Homo sapiens: one gene and its partner. The protein of the gene in region 1 interacts with the protein of each later gene in a pairwise test. Each region holds a gene or a part of one and is shown in the gene's direction. Other genes may lie near its edges.

Region 1 (3,867 bases):
GCAGTATTTTTATAGCTTCAAGTAATAAACTGGTAAAGCATACACTGGTTTAGATGAAATATATTTCTTTCATAGTTAGGCTTTATATATTACATTTTGATCTCTCAAAATCTGCAATTAAATATTAATTTTATCTTTGATGTTTTATTTTTTTCTCTTTAGAAAAGACTAAAAAAAGTCAGCCAGTGATTATTGTGTCTTGAAGGACCACAAAACATGAATACTTGACTTCATATGTTTTATAGAAAAATCATAAAATAAAACCTTAAGTTACAAAAGCAATATATTTCATTAGTTTTAATGGAATCCTTTCCTTTTTAAACACAAACAAACTTTGACAATCTGTACTTTGGTTAATTGCTGTGTTTGCATTTTCTTCCCTTATCCAGCCAATCAAAAACCCCCCAACAGGCAAGAAATATGTTAGATGCCCTTGTAATTGTCTTCTCATTTGTAAGGACACATCTCGGCGAATAGGATGCCCAAGACCCAACTGGTAAGAGATAAAGATTAATTCATTGATTCATTCATTTGTTCATTCAACAAGTATTTACTAAAGGTTCTTCAGTGCCAGGCTTTGTTCTAGAAAGAGTTTTTGTTTTCAAAGTCATTCCAGAATCTAGATTATTTTTTTGTTAAAGGAATGATAAGCTTAGTTTGAACTTAGTCATAGATATTTGTAGGATATAATATTCTTAAATGAGCAATGAATGTTTTCTTTGTGTTATGTAAGTACTTAATGCACTGTAATAAATCAATGACACATTGAACGTATTTAAAAATAATGAGGTCAGGCCAGTGGTTCATGCCTGTATTCCTAGCAATTTGGGAGGCTGAGGTGGGAGGATTGCCTGAAGCTGGTAGTTTGAGACCAAACTGAGCAACATAGTGAGACCCCATCTCTACAAAAAATTAGCCAGGTGTGACAGCATGCACCTATATTCCCAGTTACTTGGGAGACTGAGGCAGGAGTATCATTTGGGCCTAGGGATTAAAGCCTTCAATGAGCTATGACTGTGCCTCTGCACTCCAGCCTGGGCAACAGAGTGAGACCCCATCTGTTAGTCTCTCTCTTTTTTTTTTTTTTTGAGACAGAGTCTCAACGGGAAGAGTCTCAAAAGAGTTGGCTCACTGTGACCTCTACCTTCTGCCCTGAAAGCCTTCCCACTATAGCCTCCTCCTGAGTAGCTGGGACTACAAGCACACACCACCACTCCCAGGTAATATATTTTTTTTTTTTTTTTTTTTTTTTTTTTTGTAGAGACAGGGTTTCACCATATTGCCCGGGCTGTCTTGAACTCCTGGGTTCAAGTGATCCCAAAGTGCTGGGATTACAGGCATGAGCCACCATGCCTGGCCCATCTCTTAAAAAAAAAAAAGTAATCACTTAGTTTACTTTTGATATAATTAATCTTCACCTGCAAGTGTTTTAGTTATTTTTGTGTATCTCACTGTATATTATACTAATCTCTGCTGAATGTATATGTGCAATAAATTCTGGAATTATTCGCTCATGCCCAGTACCATTATGGATGTCCCCAGATACAAGTATATAAAGGCCTTACTTGTGTTTTTTTTCTGTGATCTCTCTAGCTTTTTGACCATTACATGAATCATGTACAGCCCTATCCAATGATAGACTAGAGAATAGAAATGAAAGCAGGATCCTGTTTGCTTTCTTTTCATCTCTGATTAAATACGCATCAAGGAATATCACACTGCTCAGAGAAATTTGGTTGTAACCCAGCCCTTCGGTGCCTTCATGGCACAGAGATTTTTGTTGGTATAGAATATTTTTAACTTAGTCTTCTACCAAACTCAAGTTGGCTTCCTAGATAAGGAAGGGTAACAACTGTTTTCTGATTTGAACTTACAAAAACTTGGAAATGACAGTTAAATGGTTGCCATTGATTAGGACCAATGCTATAATATATTGTTTCTATCCCAAGTACAGACTCATATTTTGCTTTTGAAAAACTGACTGTTGCTACTCTTTGTAGTTTTGCCTCCAGCTTGACATTTAATTCACTTAATTTATGAAACAAGTATAGCACATTTCATATTTTTGGCCATATGTTGCAGGTTTTGCTCTCAGTCCATTTGTGGGATAGTGAAGTTGTTTCCTTTCTCTTTTCACAGTAGACGGATAATTAACCTTGGCCCAGTAATGCTTATTTCTGAAGAACAACCAGCTCAGCCTGCATTGCCAATCCAACCAGAAGGTACAAGGGTCGTGTGTGGGCACTGTGGAAACACATTCCTGGTAAGTCACTGGACATTTGTCATTAATCTGTAAATATAGGTCATGATCTTACAGATTAGAGCACTGCTCATAGTCTTATAGTTTTGTCCAAATGCAAATTAATCAAAATATTAAAATAGAGACTTATTTAGGCAGACAATCAGAAGTGCAACTAGGATATAGAGCATCTTCTGTGAACTAGATAAAAGGTACGTCCTCTGATAAGTCCAGTTGCAAAAAGGATCCTCTCTATGTAGGCCAATGAGAAATCGTGCCCAGGCTTAGTTCCATGAGTATCTTGGCTTGGGGAGCAGCTGAGTCTTAGCCCTGCTCTCACCTGCTCAGCAGAGGTCAAAGTGCACAATCTCATGCAGTAGATTTGCTTCATGGCTTCTAGATTGAGGAAAAATTTGAATAATAATTTATCAAAAATTTTCTGACTTTTATAAATTATTCTTGGAGCAAAGGGAATTAACACTGTTACCCATAATTAGATAAAACCATTAGATAAAGAATAAGAAAGTATAAGTAATTTGATATGAGCAAAAGTTATAAAAGTTTTTGTTTTACTACTTCTAACTTAAACTTAGTTTGATTTTTTTTAAAGTTAAATTCATAATTAACTTACCCTGTCAGGAAGGATAAGGACAGGTTTTCTTTTATTGTTCAGCCCATATAGGAGACAAACATTTTCTTTAGAACTTGAATATGAAAAATATTTATCAGAGTATACACATGGGAGTCTAAACAAAACCTGCTGTCACTAAGACATGAATGAGCTTAAGAAAATATAAGTGGTTTGCTTTTTTTTATTTGTAATTTTACTTTTATTAAAGAACTTTATGTATATAGTTCTAAATGTCAAATGGGACTGCAATCTTCTCATCTAGCTGACCCCTAGTTACTGTTCCCAAAATGCTTTCAACTCTTTCAGCTACTTTATTGATAGTCACTTCTATGTGTTTATTTTTTATAATTTTTAAATTTTTATTTATTTATTCATTTATTTTTTGAGATGAAGTCTCACTCCGTCGCCCAGGCTGGAGTACAGTGGCGTGATCTCAGCTCACTGCAACCCCTGCCTCCCGGGTTCAAGCAATTCTCCTGCCACAGCCTCCCAAGTAGCTGGGATTATAGGTGCACACCACCACACCTGGCTAATTTTTGTATTTTTAGTACAGATGGGGTTACATAATGTTGGCCAGACTTCTATGTGTTTAAATTGCTTATCCTTTTTCTATTTGATTAAGCAATTTTAGACATTACCCACTAAATAGTAAACTGCAAAATGAGAACTTAGCACTTATACTGCCCTCCCACTCATATTCCTTTCCTTGCTTTCATACTCCCAGTCAAATTGCAACATTTTGTTTAATTAATACTTAGTGTTTACAATTTTTATGATTAGGTAAATTTTGTTCACAGCTGAACCAAGCAATGTGGTACATTTTTCTTGTGCATGCATTTTAACATTTTCTTGGACTTACAAATAATTGCCCCCTCCTTTGGATTTAATTTTCTATGTGTAAATCATTCATTCTTCTCATATTCTTGTGTAGAACTATAAAATACCTATTACTATAATTAATTGCATCAAGGAATCTCTTATTTAGGCTTCCTGCTAC
Region 2 (3,867 bases), on another chromosome or scaffold:
AGACGGGTTTCACCATGTTGGCCAGGCTGGTCTCAGACTCCTGACCTCAAGTGATCTGCCCTCCTCGGCCTCCCAAAATGCTGGGATTACAGGCGTGAGCTACTGCACCTGACCTTGTTTCTACACTTTAAACCAGCTCCACGGGAGGCCACCTGAGGCCACCTGCTCCAATCCCAGGCAGTGACAATCGTGCAATGTCCCTGGAGCAGGAGTGAGATATCAGATGGACCTGTTCAGGACTGGGGGGGGTCTCACTCCCAGCTGGATCCTTCAAGCCCAGCGCAGCCCCCCAGATTCCACATGTGGGGCGGCAGGGACTCCAGGCCTGAACTATGCATAGCCAGAAGGGTCCATTGCAGGGCTGTGTAGACTGAGGCCCAGAGAGGAGGGCTGAGCAGTCCCAGAGATGCTTGGAGGGACCTCTGTGATAGCCTCGCTTGTGTTTTCCAGGCCCGAGCTGCTCACTGAGGGAGTCAAAGAGCCCATCATGGATAGTCAAGGTACCCAGCGCGGGGTCGGGAGCCATGGTGTGGGCGGGCAAGGGAGGGCCCCAGGCCTCTGCCACCAGCCCCTCCTCCTGCTGCCTCTGTCCTGCTCCCATCCTGGCCCTGGCATTCTCCCCACACCCCCACATTGGGTTTCCCCTAACGATGCCATCTTGGGTCCCAGGAACTGCCTCCTCACTTGGCTTCTCTCCCCCTGCCCTGCCCCCAGAGAGGGATTCCGGGGACCCTCTGGTGGACGAGAGCCTGAAGAGACAGGGCTTTCAAGGTAAGGTTGAGCTCACGGGGAGGTCTGTTGTCCCAGCACCAGGACATTGACCTGGTTTGGGTTTGGAGGGCCAGGCTGGAAGTGGGGAGGAGCTGGCCCCCAACTTCAGGGCCTAAGGGACCAGGCAAGCCAGGTTGGCAGCCCAGGCCCGGCTGTACCCTGCCAGCTCTGTGTTAGAGACTCCAGGGGAGAGGGGGTGCCTACAGGTGGACGGTCGGGGGAGCCCAGGAGCCTGCCTGCCCCCTCCCTGCCCCACCCCCCAGAGGTAGCTGACACGCCCACTCCTTTTTCAGCAATCAGCTGTGGTCTTAGTGCTTTGAAATCAGAATAGGAGCCAGACGCGGCACCTCACGCCTGTAATCTCAGCACTTGGGAAGGTCAAGGTGGGAGGATCGCTTGAGGCTGGGAGCTCGAGACAAGCCTGGACAACATAGAACCCGTCTCTATGTCTATTTTTAAGAAAAGAAATCAGAGGCCGAGTGCAGTGGCTCACGCCTGTAATCCCAGCACTTTGGGCGGCCGAGGCAGGTGGATCACTTGAGGCCAGGAGTTCAAGACCAGCCTGGCCAACATGGTGAAACCCCGTGTCTACCAAAAAAATACAAGAATTAGTTGGGCGAGGTGGCGTGCACCTGTGATCCCAGCTACTAGGGAGGCTAAGGCGGGAGAATCGCTTGAACCTGGGAGGCGGAGATTGCAGTGAGCCGAGATCATGCCACTGCACTCCAGCCTGGGTGACAGAGCAAGACCCTGTCTCAAAAAAAAAAGAAAGAGAGAGAGAGAGAGAGATGGTGGTCTGGGATCCCTCCAGCACATGCTGGCACTTGTCTTTGTTTGTTTGTTTGGATGGAGTTTTACTCTTGTTGCCCAGGCTGGAGTGCAATGGCGTGATCTCAGCCCACTGCAACCTCCGCTTCCCGGGTTCAAGCAATTCTCCTGCCTCAGGCTCCCAAGTAGCTGGGATTATAGGCACGTGCCACCACACCCGGCTAATTTTTGTATTTTTTAGTAGAGACGGGGTTTCACCATGTTGGACAGGCTGGTCTCGAGCTCCTGACCTCAGATGATCTGCCCACCTCAGCCTCCCAAAGTGTTGGGATTACAGGCATGAACCACTGCACCCAGCTTTTTTTTTTTTTTTTTTTTTGAGACAGAGTCTTGCTCTGTCACCCAGGCTGGAGTGCAGTGGTGCGATCTTGGCTCACTACAACCTCCACCTCCCAGGTTCAAGGGGTTCTCTTGCCTCAGCCTCCCAAGTAGCTGGGATTACAGGTACGCACCACCATGCCTGGCTAATTTTTGTATTTTTAGTAGAGATAGGGTTTCACCACATTGGCCAGGCTGGTTTCCAACTCCTGCCCTCAGGTGATCCTCCTGCCTCAGCTTCCCAAAATGCTGGGGTTACAGGCATGAGCCGCCGCGCCCGGTCACACTTGGGCGTTTTTAATGAACACTTTCTGGGTGAGGGTGTCTTGGTGGCTCATGCCTGTAATCCCAGCACTTTTGGAGGCTGAGGCAGGCAGATCACTTGAGCTTGGGGGTTCGAGGCCAGCCTGGGCAACATGGCGAAACCCCATCTCTACCAAAAACACAAAAAAGAAATTAGCCAGGTGCGGTGGTGCACGCCTGTGGTCCCAGCTACTCAGAAGGCTGAAGCAGGAGAATCGCCTGAGCCTGGGAGGTGGAGGTTCCATTGGGAGCCGCCAGGCCCATCCCCTGTGTCTGTGGGGACTGCCCATCCTCCTCCATCTGCTAGATCAGCTGGGCTTCCATTCCCTCGCTTGTCTCCAGCCCCCTAGTGACTTCATGAAGCCCCCGCCCCCTGCCTGCCAGCCCAGGGCACAGGACTCCGTACTCTATGGTGTCCCTCCCCTCCGGGGCTTATTTATTGGTTTGGTGGTTTTCAAATGTCATCAATTAACTTAATTTCCAACTCATCACTGTTGTGGCAACAGTGCATGTCCTTCTGAAAAAAAGACATCTCCATCAACATGTCGGTGCTGAAGGACCTGAGGGGCCCACTCCAAAGATCCTTTAATTGCCGGAGAAGGAGTTCCCCATAATTAGAAAATCATCTTCCTTAAAAGTCACCAAGTGCTTTTTCACTCAACAGCCCAAACCCATAATCGTTTTGCGCTTTGCAGAAAATTATGACGCGAGGCTCTCACGGATCGACATCGCCAACACACTAAGGGAGCAGGTCCAGGACCTTTTCAATAAGAAATACGGTAAGCAGTGCAGAACCCCCGGGGAGGGACACGCAGCTGCTGTGCACAGAGAAGTGGGAGGCTTCCCAGTTCCAGCCGAGGGCATTTCTGGGGAAACAATTCACCCCTTTACATGTATTTCTTGAGCATATACTACGTGCCAGGCACTGTCTCAGGCACTGGGGATATTGCTGTGAATAAAACAGACACAGTCCCTGTACTCATGAGCCTTGCAGACCAATGAGGTGAGATACACTTTCAAGAACTACACACAGAATTTAATAGACAAGGGCCCGGCACAGTGGCTCCTGCCTGTAATCCCAGCACTTTTGGAGGCTGAGGCAGGTGGATCACTTGAGCTCAGGAGTTCGAGGCCAGCCTGGGCAACATGGCAAAACCCCATCTCTACCAAAAACACAAAAAAGAAATTAGCCAGGTGCAGTGGTGCACACCTGTGGTCCCAGCTACTCAGGAAGCTGAAGCAGGAGAATCGCTTGAGCCTGCGAGGGGGAGGTTGCAGTGAGCTGAGATCGCGCCATTGCATTCCAGCCTAGGCAACAAAAGCGAAACTCCGTCTCAAAAAAAAAAAAAAAAAAATGGAGCATATGACATGGGAGCATATTGGTGTGGCTTTTTCTTTCGTTTCTTTTTTTTTTTTTTTTTTTTTTTTTTTTTTGAGACAGGGTCTCACTCTGTCACCCATGCTGGAGTACAGTGGCGTGATCATGGTTCACTACAGCCTCAAACTCCTGGGCTCAAGCAATCCTCCTGCCTCAGCCTCCCAAGTGGCTGGAACTACACCCCACTGGGCACTACCATGCCCAACTAGTTTTTAGAAATTTTTAGTAAAGACAGGGTCTTGCTGTGTTGCCCAGGCTGATCTCGAACT

The links.
Region 2: the proteins of PIP4P2 (region 1) and GTF2IRD1 interact in a two-hybrid assay, tested with the Homo sapiens proteins (one large-scale study listed by BioGRID).

Annotation. Positions count from the first base shown.
Region 1 is NC_000008.11:91,016,786-91,020,652, reverse strand, and holds part of PIP4P2 (type 2 phosphatidylinositol 4,5-bisphosphate 4-phosphatase), read left to right. Parts: intron 1-389; coding exon 390-496; intron 497-2,139; coding exon 2,140-2,263; intron 2,264-3,867. UniProt on the Homo sapiens protein: Catalyzes the hydrolysis of phosphatidylinositol-4,5-bisphosphate (PtdIns-4,5-P2) to phosphatidylinositol-4-phosphate (PtdIns-4-P).
Region 2 is NC_000007.14:74,554,724-74,558,590, forward strand, and holds part of GTF2IRD1 (general transcription factor II-I repeat domain-containing protein 1), read left to right. Parts: intron 1-450; coding exon 451-500; intron 501-669; coding exon of another isoform or gene 670-714; coding exon 715-771; intron 772-2,915; coding exon 2,916-2,999; intron 3,000-3,867. UniProt on the Homo sapiens protein: May be a transcription regulator involved in cell-cycle progression and skeletal muscle differentiation. May repress GTF2I transcriptional functions, by preventing its nuclear residency, or by inhibiting its transcriptional activation.